6 separate regions of the Homo sapiens genome follow, and all the other regions are linked to region 2. Evidence: fine-mapped expression QTL. A gene starts in region 2. Each other region holds a variant in brackets. All regions are shown on one strand. Distances are between the middles of the regions.

Region 1 (5,197 bases), 63 kb before region 2:
GCAGGCAAAGGTGTAATACATGGCTGGTGCCAGGGGTGAACATACACATACTTCATTCATTCATTTGACAAAATATTTGTTGTATTCTTATTACATTCTAGACACTCTACTATGCATGGAGGCTACAACAGTGAGTGAAAGGATATGTTTCCTGCTTTCATGGTGCTTACTGTCTAGTGGCCTCTTGTGATGATGAACCGTGAATTACAGAAGGGCAAGCTCCATTTACTATTGATGGCTGCAACTCTTTCCCAATAATGTAATAAAAAATATTTGTGCTCAAAATGGATATTCTATATTTATCATGAACATTTAATTAAAAGGTCAATATTACTTGTGAATTGCCTATATTACTACTCCTAAACCATACAAGCTAAGCTTATAACTATCATAAAATTTTAGAGAACATTTAACCAAGATGACACAGATGAATTAAACATTTGCTACCCAAGTAATGAGACTTTATACTACTAGTTGCTGAAATTGTTTTGCTCTATTAAAATATTAGAAAAATGATCTTTCCTTATTTCTGAAAACACAAGTATATTGCTAGTCCATATTGCTTGCCTCAGCACTTATTATTATTTAAGAATAAAAATAATTAACAGATCCCTCTATTAGGAACCCACAACATCCAAGGATAAGTAATTCTTAAATAGTAAAACAATTGAGGCCTAAGGTGAAATTTTTGTTGCAATATCATGACATGAATTAGATTCTTTTCACTTATACTGAAGGATGAGGCATGGGCTTGCAGAATTGTGTAAGTAAAGTTGTAATCATTTATCAGAAAATAGCTTTGGGACTGTGATTACACAGACATAAGCAAAATCACTCAGTAATTCAGGTGAGCATATCAGGCAATAAAGGTTCCTTGGTAACAGGGGCACAAGTGGTGGTGTGAGGGGATGAGACCTGGAGGAGGATCTGAAAAAGAGGAGGCAGTTTTAGGGTGAAATCAAAAGGAGAACAGTCCCAGATTCTCCCCAACTGGCAGTATCTCCCTTTCCCCATGAGACAGAAAGTGATGACTTCACCAGATAAATTCACGCTGCAGAAGGGTCATAATTTCATTGCATACTCAGACATAAATCCACTTCCTGCATCTGAGTCATCAGGTTCTTTCATCTTGGTTTCTCACCTCTAGTTTGAGATTATAACACTCCCCATCCTATATTCATTCTTCTATTGATTTATTCACTCATTCAATATTTACTGAGCATATAATATGGTCCAGTCATTGTGCTAGGCGCTTGAGCTACAAAGATGAAAACAATACAGTCTCTATTCTGCAACAGCTCTGGGCATTCATCTCTAAATTCATAGTAGTGGTCTGTAACTTTTTTATTACATATGCCTACTAATGCACTTTTCAGCATGTTCTGTCAATAATGAATATTTATTACAGGTTGAGCATCCCAAATCCCAAAATCCAAAATGCTCCAAAATTTGAAACTTTTGAGCACCAATATGATATTCAAAAAAATGTCCACTGGAGGAGTATTTCAGATTTTAGATTTTTGGATTTGAGATGTTCAACTGGTAAGCATAATGCAAACATTCCAAAATCCCAAATCCAGAACACTTCTGGTCCCAAGCATTTTGGATAAAGGATACTAAACCTATATTTGTAAACTATTACAATTATCATAAATTATTTGCATTACTATATACTATATAAATTATTTGTATTACTATATTACTTTCATCTACTCTCTCAGGGCAAAATAAACCCTTAAGATAATGTTACTAGACAGCAATAGTGAAACACAGATATAAATCTATATTTTAAATTATCTGAGTCATTTTAAATCTTCTATAAGATGTTACTGGATTGCTACTGTTGTTGTTACTGTGATGGGCCTGATGTCAGAGACATTGCATACGACTGCACACAACCACATGCCATGCTATTGCTGACAGTGTTTGTAGCAGTATAGAGGAGTCAGCTCTGGCTTTTTCCTGTCATTTGTGTGCTTACATTACAAGTATTATCTACAAGTCAGGGTGTTTCTGTAGGAATATATTTAAGATACTTGTCCATCTTGTGAAGGTAGTTTTAGTTTAAAAAAAAAAGTTAACATAATCTGTAAATCCTCTTAAAACCAGATAAAAATAACTATAACATTTCATAATATGCTGAATATAAGCAAATGTGTGAGAGCAAACCTGGAATAATAGGGGAACTGAGTGAAGGTGCCAGGATGGATGTATACATGAAACATTAGAAAAGCTTACCATATTGCCTTAGATTTCAAATCAATAAAAATAGGTCGAATGCTGCCTGGATCATCTTGTACTCTACATGAAGGAACTCTGGTCTGTGGAGTGAGGCAGAGATCATGATATCGTAGCTATGCTACTGGAGCACAAAAGGCAGATAGCCTAATTTTGCTTAGGATGGAGGGCCAAGGTGGAGAAAGATAGGACAGGTGATGTATAAGGTGAGTCTTTAATAGCAGGGGGCTTTCATCAATTATAGGGAAAGGGAAGGCCTTAGAAAACACAGATATTTGAGTGATGGGGCCACAAGGGTGGGATATGTTTGAAGTAGTACAAGCAAGCAATTCTGTGTAGCTACAGGTTAGGGGGCCAAGTGGGCAGACTCAGATACAGACAGAGAAAAAAACTGATAAAAAGAGGATTGACAGAAATCTGCTGATGCCAAGAACACCGATGGCTTCAATTTTGAAAAGGGCAGCCAAAATTAAATAGATGAGCTGACAAGAGAGCAGATCACAGAGGTGGATGGATTTTTAAAGAGAAATCATTGAGGAACATGTCATATTAAAAGACATTGCTATAGATAACCTTTCTTGGGAACTAAATAAATGGGTCTTTTCTCCAACAGTATCACAAAAAATAGAACAGTTTCACCCATAAAAGCCTTTCCTTATACCAGATATCTGTGGGATAGACAAATGGAATAATTATATAACAAATTTGATTTTAAAGGATGTGATTGTCATTTTGCCTTTAATGACCAAAGAGCCTTC[C/T]GAGTTCCTAGATCCTAATATTCTTCTTTGTAGATCTCTTACTCTTCAATACCAGTAAGGGACTCTGAGGACTGACCAAAGAGGTATGTTTAAGGTTCAAATGGATAAGTCATTATCACCTGACTCATTCCACTTACAACCACTGTCCATCAGTTTTGAGTTTATTTACAGAGGGTAAAGCTTAGTTATTATGCACTAATATATGCAAAACATTTGCATATATTCTTCTACTCCTAGAAAATTCAGAAATTGCAGAGAGACAGTGTATTATAGTAAGGCAAAGCAATAATTTCCATTGACAAATAAATAGGGAAATAAGTTGAGGATCCCAAGCTGCATCTGAACCAAAATGAAAGAATAAAATTTTTCATAGCTGATATCTAAAATGAACAAAAAGGGAAAGAAAATAGAACTATTCTGAGACTTCTAAAAACTTGGGAGGTAGGATTCAGGTTACAAGAAGGCATGAGCAAACTCTAGGAAGGCTGGCACAGTAAACATTTAGGGCTGTTTTGGGCAAAGCTGTCTAATAAATAACAGTCAGTACTAAGGTTTAACAGATGTCAGGGAATTCTGAGTACTGAATCACCCTGAATTCTTCCAAATTCTCATTCTCACTTCCAGAAGGAAAAAAAAAAACTGTGGAGAAACCCCACATTCCTTGGGGCTTCAGAAGTAGGGAGAAGGAAAGACCAACTAAAACTTGGAGAGTCGGCCCCTCCTCTGTTCCCTTTCATGAGCCTCATACCCTCAATAGGGCCTCTCTCCTTGAGGTAATCACAGATGCTAACTCACAGGCAGTAAAACTTGCCCACCTCATTCTGACTACACCCTGACAACTAAGAAATTTTTCATTCACCCTCCTCCAACGCCAAAACTCTATTGTTTGTTCTCCTTCTAAAATGAGTTATCTTATTATAAAAAATTCAAACAATACATTGAAAGTCCATAATCCTATCCCTTAGAGAGAGCTATTTTGTGATTATTTCTTCAGCTTTGTTTTCTCTTTAATTATTGACAGAGTCTGTTCCTTAATCAGGAAAAAAGAACATTAATTTTCTAAAGATAATAGTTTTATTTTAGAAACATAAAAAATATTCAAAATCTAATTCACAGCCAAAAAAAATGCTACATTTCTGTACCATAAATATAATAGGATAAAAAACACCAGCCAATAATATGGTTTTGTCTAGTTGAGGGGACAGATCTAGGCAAAAGGTAACATAATTAACAAACTTCTGTGCCCACTCTTCTGCTTCTGAAGCAGCCAGAAACCTGCCCGTGGTACACAGGGCCTATCCCAACTTCCACAGCCCAGTCACCCCATCTAATCAATGACACATATTTCTGAAGAGCCACTTCCTCCTCCCTGCTGTCCAGGGAAATTCCTATTATCTCAGCTAGTTGTTTGAAGGATATAATCTGATTAACTTCATGTTAACAAGTGAATGAAGGAAAGACTGCTTGAGCAGGCACCTACACAGGAGTATGCTTGTTAAAACTAAAGAATCTGTAAAGGCTCAAATTTCAGCCTGAGTGATAATGTGAAAGGGAATAATTTCTGGTAGTGTACAAAGATAATTTTGATTAGAGGAATCTCCTTGTTGAAACTGAAAGTCATGCTGAACAACATGGACAGCCTTTCCCTGCCTATGTGAGATCCAGCATAATGCCAACTTCACAGCAATATGTCACTGTAAAGGCAGCAGAGCTGAGCAGGAAGACAAAGGGCTCTGGAATCATGCACATCTGGATTCACACCCCACACTGCCCCTTGCTAGAGCTATACATTTTTGGCAAGTTGCTGCTATTATTTTTTGACCTCTCAAATATCTATCCTCACATGTCTAACAGGAATGTTATGGGAATTAAATAAAATAGCTATACAAAGTGCTTGGCACATAGTAGGGGCTTAAGAATACAATCATTATTACTTATGTGATTTCTTTCAGTCTTTATACAACATTTAATAAACTGGGATTTCCCCAGAGTCTTCCGTAAAGCAATTGTTGATGGAATGGCTAAGGACAGTCCAACTACTGGCCAATACGGAAGATTATATCTCTTATTGTATTGTGTCATCACTCATTGACATGGTTTGAATGTTCCAAAATTTTTCCCTGAGAGAGGTAACACATCAGGCCCAACTTGGTCCCCAGACATAATTATTTTAACCCTCACAGTGTTTTGTTTAGCTTTTC
Region 2 (5,197 bases):
GTGGTCACCCTTCTCAGCCATGACTGAAGGAGGTGAAGATGTGTGAAAACTAGGACTGAGGTTTAAGAAAGTTAAGTTGAGGAACCTCATGGTGGATCCTTCAGTAGAGTACGAGGCAAGATCATTTGCAGAAGTGCAGGAAAACCACGTAAAGTGGGGGCTTCAGGAGAGCAGACATTGGACAGGTTTGGAAGTGGCCTGGATAATGTTCCTGGATAAGTGTTCCAGATAATCATCCTCCTGATGAGGAAAGGAACTGAGAATCAGTGAAGACACAGCCAAGTCTGAATAGCATGAACTTTTAGTGGAATGAAGTGATTCTTTAACCTTGTCTAGCAATGCTTAGTAGCGCAGGAGCAAGTTCAAAAGAAACCTTTCAACTAAATACAAAAATAAACAAAAAAATTAATGTTGAGTGGCAACTTATTTCAGGGGACATTATTCATGGTGGATTTCAGTAACATTTTAATTATGACAAACACGAAATCTACAATATCAAAATAGTCATCTGAGAAAAACACCCACACAAAAAGATTATTGGAGTAATAATCTTTTATTTTCTTCTTTCTATGCTAGCCTAAGGCAAGAGAAAAGACCCATTTTTTCTTTCCATTAGACACAACTTTCATTCATTTGATGTTATTGAAATTTAAAAGAAGCAAAATCATTGGTATCTTTTCATTAAACATGTGTCTCATATAACAATTTGTGGTTTACTTTTTCTGTTCTATAAACAAAAACACACATTAAAAAGCCGGAAGAAGTAAAAAACAGCCTATTTCCATGATGGCCAGCCATGGCACAGCACTTCCTGGCCCCTGCTGATCCCTTCTCAATTCTGAAAATATTTAGGGGGAACATACACACGTTCACCTGTTTTGTTCCACAGTCCTACCCTGTGTAGGACTGTCAACTGAGTTCACATTTTACTACAAATGTGGAGAGGTTTTTTTTTTTCCAATCAAGGCACCATATTAACATTTCTTAGGTTACATCTTTGTAATCTTCAATTATAGTAAGATAAAAACCAGTAGCAAAGCATATCACCCAACTTAAAATTCAGAACAATACTTAGACATATGCAGCTTGCACACACATTAACCTGTTTCTCCCAACAAAATATTTGTAATTTCCAAAATCCTATCAGCTTTTTCACACAATATGGTCCCTCCAATTTGAGGGGTAGTAACATAGTCTCCTTACTAAAGAGATTAGTCTAAAAAAAGTAAAATCGCCAAAAGAATGTAAGAATATCAGTGGCTATAGGCTAGAGCAATATCATCTTTTAAAGCCTAATATGTTCATGAAATCTCACTTTAAGAAGGTGATATCTAAACATAAAATTTATTGACAAAAAACAATTAGTATTGATAAACCACCACAAAATGATTTTAAATGAAAGTAGAAGACATTATTAAAGCTCAAGATTTTTGCGTGTACTGATTTCATGCCTCAGGTTATTTCCATATCAAATTTAAAGAGATACTGGAAAATAGAAAACAAAATCCATCAACTGTAATCCATTTCCCTTACTCTTTTGTGAAATCATCACAAGGTGTGAAGGATTGTTTCTGTTTCCTCTATCTTTAACAAGCCTGTAACCTCTCAAGTGAAAGAACATGCACCTGTCAAGCTCATAGTGCGGGATGTACACACAGATGTGTTTAATAAATATCTGCCCACAGGGAGATTAGAGGTTTGCTTTGAGAATCAGGGAACAGGCTAGCTCATGTGTTGACGCTTTGGCATCTATCATACAATCCGCCACCTCGTTCCCTTACCAAAATATCCTCAAAGGAAATCCTCTTTGAGTCTTTCAGAAGAGTTATGAGTTTGAGGACCCAAAACGTTGAGGAAAGATCCACCCCAGGGAAGGGGGAGTGGCTGCAGAGAACAAACATAAGTAGGATTTAGGTGGCTCAGTGACGTCAGGAGGAAGCAGCGATGGAAGGGATGGGGTGCAAACTCACCTGGAGAAGCAGAAGCTGCACACATGTCAAAGGTCAAAGGGCATAGCCTCAGGGACTCCCCAAACGCAGGAAAAGTGAAACGCCCACTCCTGGGCTCTCGCCGTCAGGGGTACATCTAAGGGCTCAGCTGTTCCTACCTTTGACGCCAGGGACAAACCCTACCAGGCACAGTTGGGATTGGCAGTAAGGCAAGGAAAGCCTGCCCCAGATTTCAGAGCCAGCGCTGGGGAATCTCCCTGTCCTCTCCGCCACCCCCTCCCGCGCCCGAGACCTGAGACACCTTCTCTCTCACACCCACCCTCTCCAGGCCCTCTCGCGCTGAACAGCATCGGTCTCTATGGCGACCTGAAACCGCAGCTCCCATTGGCCTGTTCAATATGAGGGCCGGGCCAATGGGGAGGGCCAGCCCTCTCCTTCCCGCCAATGGGGTGGCGGGAGCTGGCCCGGGGACGGCGGCGTGCTGACGTTCCCGGGAGCCCGGGGCTGGCCGGGCGGGAGGGCTGGCAGCGGGGCGGGCGGCGGCGGCGGCCTCTGGGCAGTAGAGGGGGCTCCGGGGCTGAGTCCGCGTCGACGCCGGCCGCGGAGGCGGCACCATGGGCAAGGGGTAGAGGGGCAAGTTGGCCACCGCCGCCGCCGGGGGTGGTGGGAGAGCCGCTCCGGGGGCGGGGGCCGGTGGGGGAGGGAGGGGCGGGCAGCCGCGCCGCCGCGGCACTTTTTTAATTTTTTCGGGTGCCGCAGCGGCGACCCCTCGGCGCCGATGTCCCTGATCCCTGGAGCGACGACGGCCGCTGCCTAAGCTGGAAAGTAAGTGTGTGGGCTCGCGGGAGGGCGCGGAGACTCCTGCCCACGAGACCCTCGGCCCTCGCCCCGAACACGCGCCAGGGCCAGGACCTGCGCGCCGGGGGCCGGGGGCCTCCCTCCCGCTGCCGCGTCCCCAGCGCCTCGCGGCCGCCGCGGCTTTCCTGCCCCGCCTCGTGTTCCTGCCCGCACTCGCCTGCTGCTCCCCTCCCCCCGGCAGGCGCACAAGTTTCACCCTCCATTTGCTTTTCCCGGCGATTCCTCTCCCCGGTCTCCCGTACGCGCAGCGCACGACCTCTGCCCACGCTGGGCTGTTCGGATTCAGAGCTCCCAGCCCCGAACTTGAGCGCCGCGCTGAGCCCTGCTGGACGCCCTCGCGGCGGCTTCCCCGCTGCCTGCCGCCGCGCGCCCCAAGTCGCCCTCGACACCACTGGGCGCCCGCCCTCCTCAGCACTCGGGGCCGGCTGTCTGTCCTTCTAGCCCCAGATCCTGCACCTTGGTCCCCTCCCCGTCTTCCCACGCCCCTGCTGCCCGCGCGGTCTTGCGTTTGTCCCCGAAGTCCTGTACTCCTTGCCGGTCCTGCCCACCCCTCTGCCTAGTGCGCCCCTCTCTACCGGCCGCGGATCCTCACGCTCCACCCCTCCCGGCTCCCCAGCGCCGAGCCTCGCCGCTGCCCTCCTGCGCCGCCGCTTCCTCCTCTCCCTGCCAGGAGTTGAAGCGGAGCTGCGGCACCTCCCTGGCGGATCTGGTATCCCCGCCCGCTGCCGAGGCTGCCGGCCCTCTCCCCTGGACCGCTACCCGGAGAGCGAGCGGCGGGGCCGGGATTTGGCTGCGTGTTGGCTGAGTGCGACACACCGCGAGCGCGGGCAGTGGAGGTGCCGCGGCGGCCGTGGCCGCTCGGGGCGCAGCGGTAGTCAGGTGTGTGTGTACAGCGGGGGACGCGCGCTGCCGGCTCCTGGGCTGGCGACAGATTGTGCAGGAATGCGAGGAATGCACCAGGGGCAGAGTCCACACAGCCCGCCGCGGCTGCCCTAGCGCCTTCCCTCCCCAGCTCTCGCCGCGCAGCCAGAGGTCACCGGAGCATCTTCGGAGCTGGTGAGCCTCATTCCACTCCTCTCCTCCCATAGCTTCCCTCCATGCGGCAGAGGGGAAGCGCGGTAATTCTTTGGGGCTCCAGCTAGCCTTTCGTCTGGGTTTTTGCTGCATTGGTCTTCAGGACCGTGAATTTGGGGCCGATGACTGTGTAGCCAAGGTTATTGATCATTGCACAGGGCTGTTGGCAAGTTTGGTGTGCAAGGTTTGGATAGTGCCTGGTTTTCACTAGGGTTTTCTGAAAACCAGCAGAAACAGGGGGCCTGAAGGTTGTTAGAGTAATGAGCTTGCAGCCAACATATTTTAGCTCTATCAAAAAATGCCTGTTAGTGCTCACGGGCATGTACTGCGAGAGAGATCTTGAATGCATCACTTTGGTATCCTAAGAAGTGTAATTTTTTTCCCTCGTCATACTGGGCTGTGTTTAGACCTCGTATAATACATAATGAATAGAAACAGAGAAGCACTGTTCGGTCAGCGATGGGACAGATAGAACTGTCTGGTACAGTTAAATTCGGGACGTGTCAGTTACCATTGAAAGTAACACGGGGACACCACAATCATGTATATTTCAAGATGTAATTTATTAGTGGAGGTCTCAGTTTTTTCTCTTTGTTACTGAGTTTGACTGAAAAAAAAAAATAAATGCTGCCCTACAAGTTTTAAAGAACGGTAATTATTTACGTGTAAAATCAATGATGGCTAGTATGCATTTTTGGTCAAATTTTGTTTTCCTTAATACGGGAGAGCAAAATTTTGACAGAAAATGGTTCGCTAGAATTGAGCTTAGATTCTTTTTATTTTTAAAGAGAAACTAGAAGAATGCTTCTCTTCTTGAATGCAGTATATTGCTGTAGGAGTATCTTCGTTTTGGTGCCTGTGAAACAGTTATGGAAAATGGCAACATGAAAACGAGAACAACTAATGTCTGAAATAAGTGTTTCTGGGTGTTGAAAAGCATCATATGTGTGTTTTTATTTGACACAATTTGCTTTGCAGGTTGCATTTATGATAAACCTCTTTGCACCTGGTTATTTTATGTCAGATTCAGTAAAATAATAAGTCAGTTGTCTGACCAATCAGCTTTCTTCCAACACCTACTTTGTGTAGATCATGGACATTGAAAACTATTAAATAGGAGCCTTTAGTTAAGGACTCAACAGAAAGGAAAAAAAATAGAAAAAAATATTTTGCACTCAGAAACGTTTATGTTTTGGTTGCTACGTTGTTTTTCAGCTATGTGCATAATCAGTGAATCTTCTAATTTAGAGGTTTAATTTGTGTCCAGTAACACTGTGGAGGATATTGGGAGGTGTTTGTAAATGCCAACAGGAAAC
Region 3 (5,197 bases), 200 kb after region 2:
AGGATCCAGGGAGCACAGTTTAAAACCATTGCCCAAAAGCACTTTATATAGAAGCATGGCCAATTTTCTAAGAATCCGTGGAGAAATAGCTCCAACTGTAGAATTTAAGTTCTTTTCATAAGCACCCATAATGCGTGCTGCCTTCTAACGGGACCCTAGCTTTTGTGTACCCCAAGATAATTATATAAGCAAAGGTCTATCATGAACAGAAGAAAAGAAGAACAGAGCAAGCTTTTGGAAGTAAAGCAAGGTCTTTACTTGCCTGATTCAGAACTGTCTTAAGTCTCCCGCCCGTCCTGTGTCCTGAAGGCTGTAGTTATGGTGGAATAGGAGTAGAAAAGGGGTAAAAGTCCTTGGGGAACAAGGGAAACCAAATCAGCAAGGTCCAGAAGTCAAAGCCAAGTGAAAGAGGAGAGTTGTGGGCACAGGTGCAGAGCAGAACACAAGAGGAGGCCAGAGCACAAGCATCAGGTTCCAGTCCGACCATTCCCTCCACAGCACATGGACAGGCCTGGGAAGGGGCAGTCCTCACGCAGTTTAGAGTCAGAAGATTGTTTCACTCTCTTCACTTCTAGCCCTTGGCTTCTACATCCCCTTCCTCCACAAAGGAAGGAGCTCCTGTCTTCCTCCCCATACCACCCTCTTTTACAGGGGGCACCCAGAGAAGGCTGAGCAGGTGGTGTCCAGGCTGGCTTCTTGGGCCGTGACAGCTGGAGCAGCAGTGCTCAGTCTTGTCTCCGGGCCACGCTCTTGATCAGTCATGTTCACAAGCCTGACACGCTCCCATGGACATGGGCAGATTTTGCCACCCCTCCCTCTGCAAGGCCACAAACGTTTTTGTGTGTTGGTAGTTGTGAAAGCACTGTACAGACTCGAGCAACTTGCCAAGGGTATGTCAGGAGTGTAGGACTCTGGGGGGGACTTGAATGCAGAGAAAAACCAGCTGCACCATCTCTTCTCCACCTACTTTCCTCTTACTCAGGAAGATGCACTGATGTGAAAATGACATTAGGGTAGGTATCATCTCAAATTTGCTCCAATGTCTATGAGAGCAATTATTGGAAAACCTGTGCTATGATAATAATTTTAGCTACCTCATACTTGGTGCAAAAATTAAGGCCCTCTAATATCATTAAACAGAACTCTAATAAGCTCCATTTAAGATCTGTTATCCTGAAATCTTGATATGAATTACAATACAGGCGATTCTTAATTTATTGTTAGTTTCACCTATTTCCAAAAAGGAATGACAGTAACGTGTGTTTCTAAAGCACATGATAATAAAACTCTTAAAATTGAGATAGAAGTGTTTAAACCTTATCTAAGTAAGGTGGATGAAGCAAATATAACAAACATCCATGCCAGGAAAGTTACGGCAAGTGCTTTATTGAAGCTTGAGCTTTCTGATAGCAAAAGTAAGAAAAGGAAGCAGATGAAGAAAAACATGCCAGTCTTTCAAGAAAAAGAAATATTTTTCCAAGTACTAAATTCTAAAAATGGTTTGTCACACAGACATTAAATGTAAAATACAATGCAATGAATAGCAGTTTTGTAAAAATCACAGATGCATTATATTCAAGACCCCTGCTTGGATTGTGCCCCTCTCCCTTTGCAGAGTAACTAATTTGCTTTGCAAAATCCACAGTCACCTTGCCTAATAGATACAGAGGGTGTATAATATTCACCCTCTAAAATCCAAGAGGGTGAATATTAAGAATTTGTAATATGTTGTCGGAGGCTCATACCTTCACTCAAAACTCATTAGAGGTCTATTCCCACCCTGGTTGCAAATATAGGCCATAGATTAGGTTTGGAACAGACTGACTTCATATTAATTAGAGCTAATACGTTTATTTTATTTCTAAAGCCACAGGATCTCTATTTGTTTGATTTTTTAAATCTCCTTTTTTAGGAGTTCTTTGGAATTTATCCTCATGTGATGCTGTAAAAATGACAATCATTCGAGATGCTCTCTCAACCTTAACAAACACTGTGATTGTTCCACATTCTGGATGGAATAACTCTTCTTTTGATGATGATCATAAAATTAAATTTCAGACTTCACTAGTTCTGCGTAACACGACAGGTTGCCTAAGGTAAATTCTTTATTTCTTCTTTCCAGTTAATTCTGTGATTAAATATGTGTCATAGGTAAATTGATTTTAGGAGGACTTACTTTATTAACATCTATCTAAGTTTCCAGTTTTTATTTCAAAATTTAGGCCACTGGACTTTGTTATTCTGGGAGAAAAACATCGTGAGCACAGACTTGTGGCCTTAAAGAAGTTATC[T/C]TGTAAATGACTCTTCTGTGACTTACTCAGAAAGGCCCTTTCAGTCTAAGATTACTGCCAAAATTCCAGTGTTTTCCACTTTAACAGCATTTTTCTGGTAATCGCATTCTGATTGCTAATGTGTTTGCAGCCTGCTGTTTGTTTAAATTCAAAATGTGATGGTTAAAACCATTTTGCTTTTAAAGAGGTGTGTGATTTAAACAATCAGTTTCAAGTTGTATAAATAAGTGAAAATGAGCCCAAATACTTTTTTAGTCATTATCTTTTACAGTTAAAATCTATATATAAAGCCTCTTTCGAGTGTGCACAGTAGAGTTCATTATTTGCCCTTAACACTCATCAGCTCCATTTTGACCCTATTTCCCAGCCTTACAGTACCCTGGGAACTGGAAGCAAGCCTTAGGGCAGAGTGGCACAGGGACAGAGAGAGTGGGCTCTGGTCTCAGACCACCTGGCTTCCAGGACCCGTTTGAGCCTCCGTTTCCTCATCTGTAGAATAGGGATGATAATACCACCTCAGAGCTGTGAGGGGTCAGCAGGTACTTGTGGAAGGTGCTTAGCACAGTGTCATCGCATGAGCACTCAGTGAGTGCTGTTTAACATCTAGCATCACCAAGACAGGCAGCCTGAAAGAGAGCAAAGCTTGTGTGGCTGGTCTGCAGCCTTCTAGCATTGAGACAGGTGGCTATCGGCCCTGGTCAGGGGGCAGTGTTGGTGGGGAGGTAACAAGAGTCAGGATCCCAGAATGCAGGCCAGCTCCTCCTAATTCAGATGCCCACATCTCAGGGTGGGTCTCATGGCCTAGCAATCATCCAGGGAGCTAGGATTACTCCTCAGCCAGCCAGCTAGGCTTCAGGGAGAGCCTGGGGCAGGACTCACTGTAGCTCCCCCAGTGGGTCAGGGATAGAAACATTTGGTGAATGCCCTCTGTGTGAAACCAGTGACGAATAAAACAGACTAGATCCCTGCTCTGATGGAACCACATTCTACCAGGAAGACAGACAAACAAGGAAACAAGAAAATAACAGTAGGTGCCATAAAAACAAATAGGGTGATGTGAGGGTTATTGAATGGTTACTTTGGTGGTCAGGGGGTCTCTCAAGGAGTTTAAATTTAAGCCTACATCTGAAATACCACAAGGAGTGACTCACTAGAGGGTGGTGTTGGGGAAGACAAGAGTCATAGGCCAGTCAAGGAAATGGTTAAGGTAAAGGTTCTGGAGCAGAAATGAGCTTGCAGCCGTAGCCTACTGAGCAAAGGGCAGAGTGGTACCAGATTATATAGGATTTTGTAAGTCAGATGGGGTTTGCATTTTATTCCAAGTGCCATGGGAAACCATCAGAGTGTTCTAAGCAGTGGAGTAGTGGGCCTCATTTCTGGCTGCAGTGTGGAGGAGTGAGTACAGGCAGAAGTAGAGACAGGAACATCAGACTGTTGCAGAGATCCAGGCAAACAGTGAGAGTGGCCTAAACCAGGTGCTGGGGTGAGGTAGGCAGATTTGGGTTATTTTGTGGAGGAAGAGCTGACAAGGCTTGCTAATAGATCGAATATTAAGAGCGAGGAAAGGGGGGAAATAAGGATACACCTAGATCTTTGGCTGGATCAGCTGCAAGCACAGAAGTGCTGTTGATGGGGGGAAGGGACAGGAATGCTTGGAAGGGTGAGCAGCTCAGAGTTTTGACAATGTCCAGTTTGAGAAGTCTAATTAGCTGTCTATGTGCCAGTGTCAAGAAAGCATTGGAGAAAAGAATCCGCAATTCTAGAGAGCAGTCAGGGCTAAAGGCAGATGTGTGCCAACCTATGGCCCTGTGTCCATAGGTTGTATTAAAGACAAGGAGCAGAAGGCACCTTGGAGAGTGCAAAGATGAAGACAAGACAGGACCTGGGGCACTCCTGGAGGTGCCCATGGGCAGATGAGTCTGAGAAGTAGCAAGGTGAGAGAGAAGCCAGGTGGGGTCCCAGAAGCTGTGGAGAAAAGGAAAGTGCTGCGGAGAGGCAGGGCAGATGAGAGCCGCCATTCCACCGCCCCCTCATCTAGTCACAGTTTTGCAAATTCTCAATTTGCATAATTTTACAGTTAGCCTAGAACCATTGTTAATGGGACATAAAATAGATCCTTATTTGGTATCAATTTATGAAGGCAAATTGATATAAAAAAATTTAGACACAAAACCGTTTTCTGGGTGTTTTATAATTGAAAAGATCAGAAAAGTTTTAGCATAAGCAAATATCTATATTTAACTTGAAATGTTTATAATACAAGAAATTATATGTTTCCTCTGTTCATCCAAAAAACATTTAATGACCACCTACTTACTGCACGCAAAATATTATAATAGGCCCAGGGGACTGCAAGAAGCTTCTGGCCTAACAAGGGAGGTGAAGCATGTCTAGTAGTAGCCACCACCATGACTGACAGCAGGCCACCTTCTGGGAAGGAGGCACTTTTCTAATTGCTTTCTATGTAGCAACTCGTTTCTTCTTCACAGCAACCCTGTGAGGTAGTTACTGTTATTTTCCCCCTTTTACATATGAAGAACCTCAGGAGAATAGGCCCCTAAAGAATTATATGAGGGAATTAGAAAGTGACACGTCATGAGAGAGATACAGTCCAAATGTGCAGGTTCCCTTCCATGTGTGGATAATGGGGAGCGGGCCATCATTGTGAGCTTCAGGATGTTACCATGCAAGCCCCCAGTGCCTCCTCCGACCTCTAAGTGGCTGCCACCTGTTGTTCGCTCTCTCAGATCCTTAAGGTTAAGTCCACGTGGCTGATGAGTGCATGGTTCATCTCAGCAGCTCCTCCTGTCTCCACCCCTTTAGGAACCTCAGCTCCGCGGGGGAAGAAGCTCGGAAGCAAATGCGGTCCTGCGAGGGGCTGGTAGACTCACTGTTGTATGTGATCC
Region 4 (5,197 bases), 91 kb after region 2:
AGTCATAAACCGCTGAAGGTCAGGTGCCCTTGTTAAATATTGTTGAGCACTAATAAAATCTCATGAGCCTAATACTTTTGATAGAGCATAGCTATTAGGGAGTCTAAGCAGTTGCAGAGGTTAGGATTTTCCTAATAATACTTGCATTCAGTTCATAATCTTATACTTATTTAAACCTGTTTCTAGTCACTTTTCATCATATCCATGAATAATTACAGCTACTCATTCTTATATCCATATATAACTGCATATTTACCCCCTAGGTTTATGCTTGATTTAAACCTGGTACCATAGTTATTCCTAATTGTAAACTGATGATGAGATTTCACATGTGTATTGCATAATTTAATTAGTTTAGTGTTTGTAAAAATTCTTTGAAGGTAAAATATTTTCATAAATGCCAAGAATTATGATTACTTTTGTTATGTAATTTCTAAGACTCAATTTCTCTTGCATATAGTTCCTCTCTTAAGGAAGGTTTATATACAGTGCCTTTTAAAAATATTTCAAAATTGGAAGCATATTTTTGGTTGTAGTAGATACTGAATTATTCTTGCTGGTTTGAATCTTGAAGAAAATGAAATGTAAATTCAGATTAAATTGGTATCTCTTTAGTACCCAGAATATGTTTTTGACATTTGGATACTGCCCATTAAATTCTTTGTATTTGACTGTCTGAAATGTATTCTGAATTTGTGTATCTGTTCTGGGTTTTATTTGAACTGAATTTTAGTTAAGTAAAGAATTTTAGTATACTTTAAGTGGTATTAAATAAAATGAAAAAGACTGATTTCAAATATTAATCTTTTTAGATTCTTTTGCCATATGTTCTTTTCCCAATTTATTTTGTCATATAGTTTCCATTTGTTCAAACGTCATTTTTCTTCAGATTTTTGCTTTATTCTCTTTGCAAGATTATGAAAACTGTCTCTTCTGTAACTGCTTTCAGAGTGAAGCCTGCAAACAGGAAATGCCCAGGTAAAGATGGTTAGATGGCACAAATAGTAAGCACTGCATATTTAAACCTGATGCTTTTGAAATCTTCTTTTTTTAAGTAATCACAAGATATTTGGGAGTTTGGTTGTCCTTCTCAGTACACAGGAAAGAAACGTGAAATTTTGGTTGAGAGAAGTAGCACCATAGGGCATGAGCCAAAAAATGTAGCAGTAGGCAGCCCAAGAGAGGTGTCAAATTCAAACTAATTTCACTTTTGAGAACAAGATTTCCTCTCAGACAGTGCAGCTCAGAGGATAGAAGATAAGCATAGAAAAACAGCATGGGATCTTTGAGGTGGGCACAGGTTAAGGATAAAGAGCAAGGGGATGTGATTTACAGACATAGAGACAGTACGAAACCAGGCCTGGTGCATTGCAGAAATGCTGAAATCTCAAAGTTGAGAGAAGAAAAGGTCAGAGGATTGGCTTCACAGAGAGGCTACAGTAAGTAAAAAGGCCTCTTTTTTATGCAGTAAGATAAGAAGTAGAAGGTACACACACTGGAAAGGAAAAGTGAAACTCTGTTTTTCACAAAGGATATTATTGTATATATAGAAAATTCTTAAGCAGGAAGGAGCAAACTATAGCCTACAGTCTAAATTCAGTCTACCACCTATTTTTGTATCACCTATGACCTAAGATGACTTTTACATTTTTGGGCCATGGGGGGGCAGTGGTAAGTGTAAGATGGCACAACCATGTTGGAAAACAATTTGATAATTTTTTGTAAAGTTAAACACATTTACCCTATGGCCCAGCAGTTCTCCTGGGTCACACCTAAGAATAAAAGAAAAAGTATGTCCACACAAAAACTTGTCTAGAATGTTCATAGCACTGTTATTCACAAATACCCACCAAACTAGAAACCACTTAATTATCTGTCACTGGGTGAATTAATAAATTATATTCATAACATACAACAAGAAAAAAGAACCCAACCATTGATACATGCACCATGGATGAATCTCAAAAATCTGCTGAGTGAAGGAAGTAAGCCAAACATAAAAGAGTACGTACTGATTTACTCCATTGATAGAAATTTTAGAGCAGGCAGAATTAATCTGTAACAACAGAAAGCAAGTCCATGATTGCTGGGGAACAAAGGGAGGGGCAGTACTGCAAAGAAGCTAAGGCAATTTTGCGGGGTGGTGGCATGACCAAAATATTCTGAATCTAATTGGAGCTGTGGCTCGTTGTTGTGTACATTTAGTAAAACCCCTAACGCTGTGCCTTTAAAATGGGTGCATTTTATTGCATGTAAGTTATATCTCAATAAAGTTGACTTTTTAAAACACATTAACATGTTTTTAAGAATCACAGTAAGACCCTGGCTTAAACTAGATTATCGGCTTCCATAGAGCACAGACTCTTGGATAGACACTGTTTTACAAAACTCCAGTATGCAGCTTAATATTGGGCACTCATAAAATATTTTTGAGCAGACACCTGAGTGAAAGAAACAAGACCACACATTAGGCTGAGCGTCGAGGAGTGAAGCTCCGTGAAGTCGGCCAACAAGGCTCAAGACCGGA[G/T]TTCAAGTCTGTGCTGAGGCTGGGTGAAGCTGTTGGATATAAAAATTTTGTTTTAGATTTGTTCATCTTAACATTTATTTTTCTATTGGAGAAAAATATGTGCAATGTAATCCACTATGACTAGAATAAAGCCTTTTGAATGGCAGACAGGGATTCAGACAATTAACTGCCTGTGGAGTACTCTGTACAGGAAACAATTTTACTGAAATAACATAAGGAGCCTGTATTGGTAGTTTTAATAAAATCAAGCCTGACTCATCTATTTGAGGACCAGGATTATGGAAATAACATCTTATGCTTCAAGAGTATTTTAAGATTGGAACAGTTATACTCATATTTATGAAAAAACAAAATTTGTGCATAAGTAAAATTTTAACCCTGTGGAGAAATTTAATATTTTTATTTGGCTTCTTTATGTTAACCCTGAAGAAATTCCTTTAGATTATTCAACTTCATAAATGTTAAGTTTCACTCCTCCAGCCACCCAAGATGCCAAAAGGAAAGAAGGCCAAGGGGAAGAAGGTGGCCCTGGCCCCTGTTGTTGCAGAGAAGCAGGAGGCCAAGAAAGTGATGGATCCCCTGTTTGAGAAAAGACCTGAGAATTTTGGCATTGGATAGGACATCTAGCCCAAATGGGATCTTAACCCACTTTGTCAAATGCCCCTGCTACTACATCAGGTTGCAGCAGCAAAGAGCTGTCCTCTATCCAGAGCTGAAAGTGCCTCTTGCGATGAACCAGTTCACCCCGGCCGTGGACCGCCAAGCAGCTACTCAGCTGCTTAAGCTGGCCCATAAGTACTGACCAGAGACAAAGCAAGAGAAGAAGCAGAGACTTGGCCTGGGCTGAGAAGAAAGCTGCCAGCAAAGGGAACATCCCCATTAAGAGACCACCTGTCCTTCGAGTAGGGGTTAACATTGTCACCACCTTTGGAGAACAAGAAGGCTCAGCTGGTGGTGATCGCACATGACATGGATCCCATTGAGCCAGTTGTCTTCCTGCTTGCCTTATGTCCTAAAATGGGGGTCCTTGACTGCATTATCAAGGGGAAGGCAAGCCTGGGATGTCTGTGCATAGGAAGACCCTGCACCACTGTTGCCTTCACACAGGTTAACTTGGAAGACAAAGGAGCTTCGGTTAGCTGGTGGAAACTATCAGGACCAATTACAATGATAGATATGATGAGATCCGCCATCACTGGGGAGGCAGTGTCCTGGGTTCCAAGTCTGTGGCTTGCTTTGCCAAGCTGGAAAGGGCAAACGCTAAAGGACTTGCCACTAAACTGGGTTAAATGTACACGGTTGAGTTTTCTGCACATAAAAATAACAAAAATTCTCCTTCCAAAAATAAATTAAGTTTTCAGTATTATCAGAATGGTACTTTTACAGGGGTGGATCATATTTTATTTCATGTCTAAAAAATAGGCTTGAGTCAGTGTAGTCTGCTTTTTAATCCTTTTAAATTTTATTTATAATATTTTTCAGAGTTTTTGGGAAATCGTTTAGTGGCCCTTCACCTACGCCCCTGTGAGGGACGAGTGCTTTGGTTGAATATGTTCCTTCCCACCGCCACCCCTAGATTTAGACCTCTTTCCCCACCCTTTGCTATTCCACACACTAAGGGCTGCTGGGCCTGCAGGTGGTTAGGTGCCATTGCCCCTCTGCTTGGAATTCAAAACAGAGAACTTTTTTTCTTATAATATTTTAATAAGCAGAGGGAGGAGGTAAAGATTGATTCAACTGAATAGCCCAGTATTTTAATCTTCCGTGTTGACCAGTATGGAAAGGGTCATTAATATTCCAACACTCATATTTTGCATTTATTCACAAAAGTTTAAAAAGTTTTCTTGATTTAATTCCGATGATTTTATTGAAGGGATAGTAGTTTATTTTCATAAAACATGTTTTTTTCCATTATTGCTTAAATTCTGTGAATTTACAGAAACAAAACATTTAGGTTGTGAAAACTACTTAAGATTATGCCTAATAAATGCATGGTTGTAGTTTTAAAATTATTCAACCTAATGTAAGTAATATTTTATCTCATAGCAGTGTCGCTAATGGGAGTAGTATTGTCCAACATAGGAGGGTCAGGCACAGACGGAAGATCAAAATCTCACTCTCCTGAGGCTCCATCTATGGCTCTGCTCTCTAAAGAAGGTTACATTTATAGATCTCTCAGAATAAAACATTACTTTTCTGCCAAGAAGAAGTTAAACAATCTATTAATGTGGAAAAATGTTGCTTCAAACACAGAAGTCTATTTGTAATGTGTATCAAAGTGGATTCATGAATGAATCTATAGCAGTATTTTGCCAGAGTTGTAAGAATGTCACTTATAGCTTACAAAGTCATAACTTAATAAAAAGAAAATATGGACATGTGTGTTAATGTTTTTAAAGGCAAGCTTACTGAGGTATAATTTATGTAAAATAAAATTTAATGAGTTTTGACAAATGAATGTAGTCATGTAACCATAATCAATATATACAACATTTTCATCACCCCAGAAAATGTTCTGTAAAGCAGTTTTCAAACGGTGGTTGTGAGTCCTTGGACAAACAGTGTGACCCAACAAGCACTTTACCACCAGGGCTGACTCCCTGATGGGGTGTGATTTCTAGTCCTGCTGTTTGGCTGCACTCTCAGCAAAGGTGGCAACTTGGGATCATG
Region 5 (5,129 bases), 37 kb after region 2:
TTCTGACTGCAGTTGAGTATTTCATGATATATATCCATCCAGTTTTATCTCTCCCCTCCTTCTGTGATGGTTATTTAGATTGCATTCACCTCCTCACCATCGTAAAAAGGGGTGCGTGATCCCTTGGGACCTGTGTGACAGTTTCTGTGGGAAATATGCCTAGCACCAGAATTGCTGCATCATAGACTATCAGTACTCTTACTTTGCCTGAGCTGTGCGGTGCTGATACTCTCTAGAATGGCTGCATCCATCTATATGTCTCCACAACCCAACACTTAGCGTGGTTCAGTCTGCCAGGTGTAAATCAACTCATTTTCAGTTTGTATTTCTCTGACTACTTATGAACTTGATAATGTCTTCATCTGCTTGTTATCTTTTTTTGGGTATCCTCTTCTGTAAATTTTTTGTCCATACCTTTTGCCCAGTTTTCTACTGGGGGTTCTAATCTTATGTTGATTTGAGGGACATCATTATATTCTGGATATATATCCCTTATTATGGCGTTACAAAAGTCTTTAATATCCCACTTGTCTGTAAACTTTATTGAACAGAAATCATTAAATGTGCTATCAAAATCATCGTTTGTTCTCCCTTCACCCCCCACCCCAGCCATATAGCTTGAAGGTTTTGTTCAAATCCTTCTCTAGCCCTAGTTCTCAAGGTATTCTTCGTGCTTTCTTTTTTATTTTTAATTTTTATTTTTGAGACAGGTTCTCACTCTGTCACCCAGGCTGGAGTACAGTGAAGCAAGTATGGCTCACTGCAGCTTCGACCTCCCAGGCTCAAGCAGCCCCTCATGTCAGCCACCCTAGTAGCTAGAGGTGAAGTAGATGGAGCACAGGTGCGCATCACCATGCTGGAGTAATTTTTAAATGTTTTGTAGAGATGATGTCTCGCTATCTTGGCAGGGCTGGTCTCAAACCTCTAGGCTGAAATAGTCCTCCTATCACAGTCTCCCAAAGTGCTGGGATTACAGGCTTGACCCACTGCACCGGGCCCCTTTTTTTAACTTTATAGTTTTACTTTATACAATTTGGCTCTCTTGCACCTGGAGTCTACGTTGTGTCACTGCCCTGATTGAAAAAAAAAATCTAATGGCCTCAGTTGCCCACAGAGTGAAACAAGGCATCACAGGGAATAGGAAACTCCTCAGAATCTATCTCACACCTTCCCCCTGTTCAGATATTCCCATATTCTTATAAAAATAAGAAACCGAAAAAGCAAGTTATGCGAAGTTAATTTTTTTTAGCTGAGGAATCATCTTTGTCTTAATCTCAGTTGCTTCCTCTCCACTGGTTGCTTCTCCTTAAGTATCTTCTGTCTCCTCAGATTTTAACAACAGCCAGCAACCTGCCTTCACTTCCAGAGAGCTGTACTGGCACCCCCTCTCCCCCACACCAACCCCAACCCCGTTTCCCTTTGGCTTCCGCCACCCTGCTTCCCCTCCTGCCACCCTGCCCGGGCTTTGCTCCTGAGGATACTCTTCATCTGTCTTGCCCATCAACACTTGACAACCCACTCCATGGGAAAATTGCTTTCCTTCTTTGCCTGTTACAATAGTATTTTTTTCTGTCTCCTTTTGTCTTTCTGACTCTTACTACTTAAGTTCTGTTTCCAGCTGACCATTTTCCTCCTGCGTACCTTTTAACATTACTATTTTCTTCTTCTTACAGAAGTGTTATACGTGTTTACAGTAGAAAATGCAGACTAACCAAAAGATGGACTACCCATAATTTCATCATTTAGAACAGCTTTTTGGTTTTGTTTCTTTAAGAAAAGGGGATTATGCTTCATAGGCATAGTCTTTATACATAACCTTTATTTCCTCCCTACCTAATAATATTTATTTTCTAAACTGTTTATTTTTAATGTTTGTTTTAGTTTTTTATTTTAAATTAAAATATTGAAAGCCTTATAACAAATTATAACAGTCCTTTGACCCCCTTGTCTCATTCTTTTTGCCAGAAGTATATACTTTCAGTTACTTTGTCTATTTCTTCTGATACTCATCTCCTTATTTCTAAATAACATATTATTTTTTAAATCATTAATTTTAGATATTATCTATTATTGTTAATACATAGATGAGAATCTCTGCCTTATACCCCTTTGCTGTCTTCCCGTTTTCCTAATAATGACAGATCATAATTTTTTATTAAATTACTATTTATTGTTTCCATTATTTTGACTATATATATCATTCACCAGTGAGCCAAATAGTTTCTCATCGTTTTTTAAATCCAAGTGTTTTTTCCACCAGTGGAAATACCTGCCTCATTTTTCCATTTCCTTAACTTCGTTTTGATCTACAGCCAAATCTTCTCACACCCTCCTTTAGCCTCTTAGTGCCATTTTCCATGTGGTTACCCTAGCAGCTCATCAGTGAATCCCATTTAACCCTCACATTTGGGACCAGCCACCTGTCCTCCTTTTCCAGGCTGGACTGGTTGCTCTCTAGGCCTGCTGCACAGTGTCATTAATGCCTGAGTAGCCCTCTTCCAAAACTGAAGTCGGTGACACAGTGACGTTAGCAAATTGAGAGATTTGAGAAGGTCTCAAGAGGCTTCTAGTCCCTGTAGGTGTCTAGCACTGCTGCATGAGGGCATTGAGCAGCATTTGGCCTGGGCTTCTGTTTTGTGAGTGCTGCTCACTTGGCAACATGCTTTCCTCCTTGAGGTTTCAGGACTGGTGAGCTTTTCCTGCTAATCTAGGTCTTACTGTTGCCTTTCTCTCCTCTTCCCTCACTCTCCCCCTTTCCCCACCCTTGTGGACCCCTTTTTTCAGTCTTCTTTCATTCTCCAGTGTGATTATTGATTGCACTACTAATATTTCTTGGTCTTTGGGGAAGAAATGAATGGAGTCCAGGGGTGCAAAATTCATTTAAAATGAAGCTGACATTTTCATTTCAGTCTTATCAGGAGGGAGGCAGATTCTTGCCAT[G/A]ATAAAAGTTGGATCTTTTTTAATACAGTTTAGGAACTTTAAAAGGTAAACACTGATGAGAAGGGAAAAGCTATTTGTACTTAGCATACTGCTTATTCGACTTCAACTAAGAAGCTCATCCATTACACCAATTTAGGCATCTCACTATGTTTCTACTACTCTAGGACAGCAGAGTATATATTTATATTATGTACTTTTTTTTTTTTACTTATGGAGGGGAAAATGGGTTCTGTATAAAACAAGAAACAGCCCTAAAAAATGTGACCTTTATATAGTCTTACTTGAAGTTAGTTGAAATATCAATTGTGCCAAATAATATACTTGTAAACTACAGCGTTATTTGCAATGATATGAATAAATAAAATGTGTTAGTTATTTGAAAGTAGATGAGCGAATTATGAACCTGATATGTCTGAAGTGATGATTAATACCATTAAGGATGATTTGTTTTGTAATAACATATTTAAACTAGGTAATCATGGATAGTAAAGCACTTTAAAATATGGTAGTAGATTACTTTCATTATTCAGTTATTTAGGTTTTTAATATGAAATTTTCTAGACCAGTTGCAAAGACTTTTTCAAAGTACTAAATATCCCCATTATAAATAAAGTGCACTTAATGGTTCTTTTAATTTGTAAGCAAACAGCAAATGATTTTTTATAACCAAATAGAGATTTTAGTTTTGCTATTTGCTTGCTCTTTAACTTTGGGCAGATATTTAAACTGTTTTGAGCCTATGTCCTAATCAGTGAAGTGAGAATCGTGCCTACCTCTAGAGGTTTTGCAAAAACTTTAATGAGATGAAATAAATGATCATTGCTCTATTTTTTTTTTTAAAGTTGTGCATTTTTAGTAGTCAGGAAAACTATTAAATCAATGAGGTGGCCGGGCGCGGTGGCTCACATCTGTAATCTCAGCACTTCAGGAGGCCGAGGCAGGCGGATCATGAGGTCAGGAGTTCGAGAGCAGCCTGGCCAACATAGTGAAACCCCATCTCTACTAAAAATACAAAAAATTAGCCGGGCACGGTGGCGGGCATCTGTAATCCTACCTACTCGGGAGGCTGAGGCAGGAGAATCACTTGAACCCAGGAGGCGGAGGTTGCAGTGAGCCGAGATTGCACCATTGCATTGCAGCCCAGGTGACAGTGCAAGACTCCGTCTCAAAAGAAATAATAAAAATGAAGTACCATTTTTTTCACAGATTAGGCTGACAAACACTGGAAAGAATGATAAAACCTCATGTGGATGAGCGTTGGCAAGTTGGACTCACATTGCTACAATTCTTCTGGAGAGTTAAAAAAAAAAAAAAACAACAAAGCCCAGAAAGTTCACTTGGCTCATCACTTCTAATGTGCTATATAAGGAAATAATCAGACAAGTGGACAAAAACTGTTTTCTGCTGAGTCGCTTATACTCTCAAAAATTCTAAATATTAGTACATCAGACAATGAATTTTTTTGTAGCCATTAGTAATAACTATGTTTAAAAAAAAAGGAGTGTCCGGGTGCCGTGGCTCCCACCTGTAATCCCAGCACTTTGGGAGGCCAAGGAGGTCCTGACTTGAGGTCAGGAGTTCAAGACCAGCCTGGCCAACATGGTGAAACCTCGACTCTACTGAAAATACAAAAATTAGCTGGGCGTGGTAGTGGGTGCCTGTAATCCCAACTACTCAGGAGGCTGAGGCAGGGTAATTGTGTGAACCCAGGAGGCGGAGGTTGCAGTGAGCTGAGATTGCACCTCTGCACTCCAGCCTGGGCGACAGAGCAAGACTCTGTCTCTAAATAAATAAATAAATAAATAAATAAATAAATAAATAAATAAATAAGAGGGGTATATATGTATATATTTTTAACCTTTCATTATGGTAAATCAATATCAGTTTTAACATATATTTTCTTTTTTGTATACATTTTTACTTGAAAATATTTTATTTTATTTTATTTGAGATGGAGTCTCACTCTGTCACCCAGGCTGGAATGTAGTGGCGCAATCTCAGCTGACTGCAAGCTCCACCTCCTGGGTTCACACAGTTCTCCCACCTCAGCCTCCTGAGTAGCTGGGACTACAGGCACGTGCCACCACGCCCAGCTAATTTTTTGTATTTTTAGTAGAGACAGGTTTCGCCATGTTGGTCAGGCTGGTCTGGAACTCCTGGCTTCAAGTGATCCACCTGCTCCAGCCTCC
Region 6 (5,197 bases), 270 kb after region 2:
CATGTGGGTCTCCCCTGTGGCTCTGATGCCTGGCAGGGAAGGGACCCTGGAGGGGGACTGCTGCTCAGGTGTCCAGACACCTGGCTGAGGGAGAGAGGGACCCACAGATCCTCTAGGACCGCAACAGCCCAGCCACCCTGGACGGGATCTGCAGCCGGCTGTCAGGGCATGCTCCTTGGAGCTTGGTTTGGCTTCTCTTTGCTGTTCTTGGAAGCTGTGTCTTTGGAAAGCAGAAGCTGGAGTTCCCCCAGCCCTTCAGGTGGCTGGTGTTTGCCTTCTCTCTCTGCCCTAGCAGCCACACCTCTCTGGAACACTCTGATGTGCGTTTATGGAATGCCCCAGTCACTAATCTTACAATTTGTTTAATGAAAAGGAAAAAAAAAAGTCACCCAATCACATATCTGTGGCATTAGTCACAAAACCCTTGACCTGAAGTGCCCAGACTACACCAGCTGCTCCATCCCACGAGGCAAATGGTACCCACCTCACCACTCCCTCCAATGGATGGGTCCCTGAGCACTGGCCTGGCAGACTTGAGACTCACTTGGTGCCCTGTTCTCCTGTCCAAGCCGTGGAGAACTCCAGAGGCAAGACTGCCTGGGTTCACTGTCCAGAGCTGATACTCCCTTGGCACGGGCTCTCAGACAAGTCATTAACCTCTCTGCGCCTCAGTTATCTCTAAAGGGCGGGGGGTAATTTTAGTGCCCACCTGATAAAGTCATAATGGGGATTAATAAGTTTCCTGAGTACCTGGAAAGTGCCAGCTGTTACTGCTGACAGTAATATTATGGCCGCCCATGGCCCGGTAGAGCTGCGGAGAAAGCCTATGCAAACAACCTCCCAGAGCAGAGATGATACTGCTTGCTCCGAGCCAGTTAACCCAAGGGCGAAATGTGATCCTTTAACAAATGCACAGCTTGCTTCCTGCTATAGCAGGCTGTTCCCAAAGACATCCACCCTTTCGCTGTCTCCATCAGGACTGAGAGTGGCATCCCTTTAACAGGGTAGAGTCCCTCTGGCTTTGAATGGCTGCCACTTATCAAATGCCTCTGCAGTCTGGCTAGGAGTGAGCCAGACAAAGAGCTGGGTGTGTGCAGTGCATAACCAATGCCTGGCCAGCGCTGGGCTCACTTGGCTATGTGTTGCACCTGATGACATCAGGGGTTGCCTTGCTCCCCAAGTGGTGACAACTCGGCTGTCATAGGGACAAATTATGAGGGGATTCCTGTCCCCTCCTGTGAAGAAGAGAATGGAGAAGCCAGGGAGAAGCTCTGCTCACTGGCTCTGTTCTTCTCTGCAACATGGGATCTGTACTGATCTTCAGCTGAAACCTAGTAGCTGATGGGCCACTGTCTCCCCCATCAACTGAGATCACCTCTCATTTCCTTATATCTGCAGGACTTTTCTTTATGTCTATGAAATTAAAGGCCTTGGGGTGTGGGGGTGCAGAAACATGCAGTGAACCCATCCCAGACTCATAGCACCCAAATCCCTGCAGGCGGAGCCCAGTCTTCTCCGCCTGAATCTGATGCACCTCTGTGCTTGAAGACCGTGGATTTACAGGAATTACCTGACCCTTATGTGTATGCAGCCAGATGGTCATTTAGTACAAGCCTAGTGGGTTCTAGCCAAAGGCAAACAAAAACTGGCCAGTCTCTGTCTAGACTCTGGTTTTCTGAGAACTGCCCAAAGAAGTGAATACTTGAGTCCACATGAGAACTCAACTGATCTTTACTAGTTGAATTCAGACTGCCCACTAGGTAGCTTCTCAGCCTCATTCTGCAGGGCCATATGCTGAGATAGGTGCCACCACCCAGGTAGGAGACTCAGGTTGAGCTGTGCCCTGGTCCAAGTACAGAGCAGGCAGGCACTGGGAAGGAACCCAGTGGCCTGGCTGGGAGGCAAAGTGAGAGGCACTGCAGGTTCTTAACCAGGCCCAGGAAAGGAAAGGGCTGTTGAGCAGGCTTTATGGATGAATGGAGGTAGCTCCCATGGTTCCCACCCCTCACTAAGAGCCTGGGGGCTCGGCAGGGGAGCCTAGGCCACCCCTTGGTCTTCCTCTGAGTCCTTTAGATGCTGTTTGGCCACCTCAGGCACAAGTGTGGCTGAGATGTTTCCCTGCAGGCTTGTTCCTGAGAACAGTCACCTGGGCAGTCAATCTGAAGGTGGCTGCTGGGAAACCTCAGGCTTAGGAGTTGGACCCAGGACTCACATGGTGTGAACCCAGCTCAGAGAAACAAAGCTCATCCTTGGAGCAGGGCCAGCAGAGGCAGCTGAACTTCACGGTCCAGACCAACAAAGCCGTCCCCAGTGGAGCTCTTGGGAGAGGAGCCTGGAAGGGACAAAGGCCAGACACTGGCCACTCTTTAAAACATAAGGAGTTTCATC[G/A]TCTCATACCCTGCTGGTGGGGCCAACGGACAATGAGGACTGAACATCTGTGAGGTGCCACGTCACTTCTCAAAGACAGATCACAGAGGCCTGTGCTGTTAATCTGGGCTCTGTCAGCTGCATCAGCTGACAAGCATGGCCACTCACCAGTTTCTAAGGCTGGGGAACATCTGTTGCCATTGTTTTGCCTTGTCTCTTCTTGACTTGCTGCAGAAAAGGCTTGTAATAGTTATTTGCAAAAACAGGTGGAGTGCTTTGAAGAAAAGCCCTATATAAACAGAAATAACACAAACAGGTTGCTCTGCTGCGAGGCTGACCTGACTCCACCCTGGCCCAGCTCTGTCATGTCAGCAAGGCTGCTGCCTTCCCCAGAAAAGGGCCATTAGAGGCCTTGGGGAGGAGAATACTGAACACAGCACTGGGGCGAGAAGACCTTAAATCAAGCCCTAACCCGACCCTTACTGACTGTGTGACCTTGACTAAGTCACTCAACTTTTCTTCCTCAGCCTGATTCTGTCATCTGGGAAATGTGGGTAAGCAGAACTCTTCTGGTGTTGTATGAAGATTAACTAGACAGTGCTTATGAAATGAACTGGCTCACATTAGTTAGAAAAGTCATAGAAAGTTCTAGCTTGAGGTATGGCTTTATTCAGGTTCTAAGAATGCCAGCAGGTTTTGCCCCTTGGTCCTTCTTCCCCTGGGTTGGCCCCCTGTTCCTGACTCCATCTGGAAGCTCTGGCAGCCTCAGCCTCACACCGTAACAACACTTAGCCCAGCAGACCAAAGCAGGTAGGTGCCTGTCACCCAGTGCTCTGGCAAAGTCCTGAGATTCACTCTGCCTGGACCAGGTTAAGTCATGTGACCCCCAAACCAGAACCAACCAATATGTCTGGGACACTGAATGCTCAGATTGACCTCATTCACTCACTCATCAAGTGTTTATTGAGCATCTACTATGTACCAGCTACTATTGTGCATTCTGGGGGCATAATATTGACAAGGCAGTAAGCTCTGTTGGGGCTTACTTACCAGTAGGAGACAGAAAACAAACAAATACATCAAACAGAATGATACAAAATTAGGAAATAACAGATATTAAAAAAATTAACCACCTACAGCAGATTCAGAGGGTAGAGATTGATGTGGGGTATGGGGTAGAGTGCTGTTTAAATAAGATGGCTCTCTTAGGAGGTGACATTTGAGACCTGAATGCAATGAGAATAGAAGCTGCGAGAAGATCCGGGCACAGAATATTCTAGGCAGAGAGGGCCAGTGCAGAGGCTCTGAAGCAGAATAAGCCAGGCTGGTGAAGGAAGAGCCAAAGTGGCCAGTATGGACAGAGGAAAGTAGACTGACAGAGAACAAGGGGAGGAGAGGTGGGGAAGTGGCAGACGCCATGGGAGGCTGGGCCCTGCCGGCATGGGGAGGAGACAGAGCTTCATTCTGACCATGGTGGAGTCTGCAGGCTTTTCGGAAGGGAAGAGGCATGACATGAGTTATGCTTGGAAAAGCCCCCTTGCTGCTATGTGGAGAGGGGTGGGGGCCACAGGGGCCAGACAGTAGTGGCTGGAACGGGGGTGGTGACAGAGCTGGCGAGAAGTGGCTGGACTCAGGACATGTTGTAGGTCATGAGTTCCATCCCTGGAAGCAGAACCTCGTGACCTTCCCAAATGGAAATCGGGAGCTATTGCCAGAAGTAATGGGGGTAGATGCTGGTGGACAAAAAGCAAGAGTTTTCCATGACTTTCACCATTTGTAGTTTCATCAATGTTTCCGTGTGGTGCTATCGTTTCACCATCATTAGTGTTCCCTTGGATGGAAACTGTATCTCCAATTTCTTTTTCTTCCTCCAAGGCCTAGAATCATTTCGAGGGATTTTAGAGACGATGTGGTCCAAGTCCAACCTCCTTGCAGAGCAGAATCCTAAAGCTTAGGAAAATTTTGGAATTGTACAAAGTCCCCCAGCTAATTAGAGCTGGAACTGGCATGCGGCACTCCTGGTTCCTAGTGCTGGCTCCATTCATGGAACAAAGGCTTAATTTGGGATGCTGCCAAGAACTGGTGGAGGTGATGGGAGAGGGTCTTACCCTTCTGCATTCTCCATCAGCATCTCCCCAAAAGCCAGTGTGCTCAATAAGCAGAGACCCCACCCTCTCTGACCACCACACTGCCCCCAAATCCCTCAATACGTAAGTCCTGGAGCTGCCCCCGTGTACAGTCAACAGCCTTTCTTCAGCAATGCTAATGAGAGTCAAGCATCCAGGCCGTAAAAGGCAGGCTCACATATGGGAAACACCGGGGTAGTGCCTTATTTTTGTTATTTTTTATTTTTTAGAGGAAACTTTATTTGAAGTACAGTCTTTTTATTCCTGCCGGGAGAGCTGCCAGTGGACAGCTCATTGCTCCTCAGCCACAGGGGCAAGTGTCTGCCTTTGAGGCAGTTCTGCAGTCCATAAAGCAAGATGGATGGGCAGCTTTGCAGGAGCAGAAAGGGCCAGCGTGGAGCAGCCTGGGAGGGGACTGCCTAAACTCTCCTGCAGATGCTCAGTGTGTCCTGGCCGGTCTCCTGTGGTAGAGGGGCCTGGGGACAGCTTTTGCCCTTGGGCCCAGCACAGTGTCTGACACTCCGGAGGAATCAATATGCTGGGTGAGGAAAGGGCCAGAGTGGTTGGATCCCCATGACATGCACACTTGCTGGGCCATAGCACATGTCCTCTGGGCCATCTTCTGGGTGACAGGGGCGCCTGGTATCATGAGAGGGACATGGCTTGAGCAATCTGGAGTTCTTATTAAGAGCATTACAGTGGAA

Alleles and levels. Alleles are on the strand shown, and positions count from the first base shown. SD is a standard deviation of normalised expression in the study named. Not every link is listed here.
As copies of T replace G in region 4, the expression in sigmoid colon of the gene that starts at base 2,508 in region 2 goes up (small effect, 0.18 SD a copy in GTEx).
As copies of G replace A in region 6, the expression in putamen of the gene that starts at base 2,508 in region 2 goes down (small effect, 0.16 SD a copy in GTEx).

What was found. PIP is the estimated chance that this variant, and not a neighbour inherited with it, causes the effect.
Region 1: its variant is the best candidate, but not a certain one, in a credible set for the expression of PKP4 in whole blood (TOPMed, PIP 0.80).
Region 3: its variant is the best candidate, but not a certain one, in a credible set for the expression of PKP4 in whole blood (INTERVAL, PIP 0.59).
Region 4: its variant is the best candidate, but not a certain one, in a credible set for the expression of PKP4 in sigmoid colon (GTEx, PIP 0.61).
Region 5: its variant is the best candidate, but not a certain one, in a credible set for the expression of PKP4 in whole blood (TOPMed, PIP 0.77).
Region 6: its variant is the best candidate, but not a certain one, in a credible set for the expression of PKP4 in putamen (GTEx, PIP 0.64).

The regions. Positions count from the first base shown.
Region 1 is chr2:158,390,990-158,396,186 of GRCh38, forward strand. All of the region lies in intron 1 of CCDC148 (coiled-coil domain containing 148), which reads right to left. Among named protein-coding and RNA genes, the nearest start is that of CCDC148, 63 kb to the right of the region's middle. RefSeq lists a silencer at 4,218-4,371. The variant C/T (reference allele first, on the strand shown) is at 2,997.
Region 2 is chr2:158,454,445-158,459,641 of GRCh38, forward strand. It overlaps PKP4 (plakophilin 4), which reads left to right and starts at 2,508. Exons shown (of 22, transcript NM_003628.6): 1 at 2,508-2,774. CCDC148 (coiled-coil domain containing 148) reads right to left here and starts at 2,309. Exons shown (of 14, transcript NM_138803.4): 1 at 1,971-2,309. The coding sequence starts at 1,995. It overlaps LOC124907900, which reads right to left and starts at 3,690. Exons shown (of 1, transcript XM_047446754.1): 1 at 2,687-3,690. The coding sequence starts at 3,010. The coding sequence ends at 2,687. RefSeq lists silencers at 2,213-2,507, 2,238-2,607, 2,828-2,877, 3,128-3,177, 3,198-3,257 and 1 more and an enhancer at 3,788-3,867.
Region 3 is chr2:158,656,219-158,661,415 of GRCh38, forward strand. It overlaps PKP4 (plakophilin 4), which reads left to right. Exons shown (of 22, transcript NM_003628.6): 12 at 1,913-2,096; 13 at 5,115-5,197. PKP4-AS1 (PKP4 antisense RNA 1) reads right to left here. Exons shown (of 4, transcript NR_135242.1): 4 at 2,119-5,197. Among named protein-coding and RNA genes, the nearest start is that of PKP4-AS1, 76 kb to the right of the region's middle. The variant T/C (reference allele first, on the strand shown) is at 2,292.
Region 4 is chr2:158,545,409-158,550,605 of GRCh38, forward strand. The region is part of intron 2 of PKP4 (plakophilin 4); the gene reads left to right. It also overlaps the pseudogene RPL7AP22. Among named protein-coding and RNA genes, the nearest start is that of PKP4, 91 kb to the left of the region's middle. The variant G/T (reference allele first, on the strand shown) is at 2,528.
Region 5 is chr2:158,491,111-158,496,239 of GRCh38, forward strand. The region is part of intron 1 of PKP4 (plakophilin 4); the gene reads left to right. Among named protein-coding and RNA genes, the nearest start is that of PKP4, 37 kb to the left of the region's middle. The variant G/A (reference allele first, on the strand shown) is at 2,941.
Region 6 is chr2:158,724,710-158,729,906 of GRCh38, forward strand. The region is part of intron 1 of PKP4-AS1 (PKP4 antisense RNA 1); the gene reads right to left. Among named protein-coding and RNA genes, the nearest start is that of PKP4-AS1, 7.7 kb to the right of the region's middle. RefSeq lists an enhancer at 42-541. The variant G/A (reference allele first, on the strand shown) is at 2,389.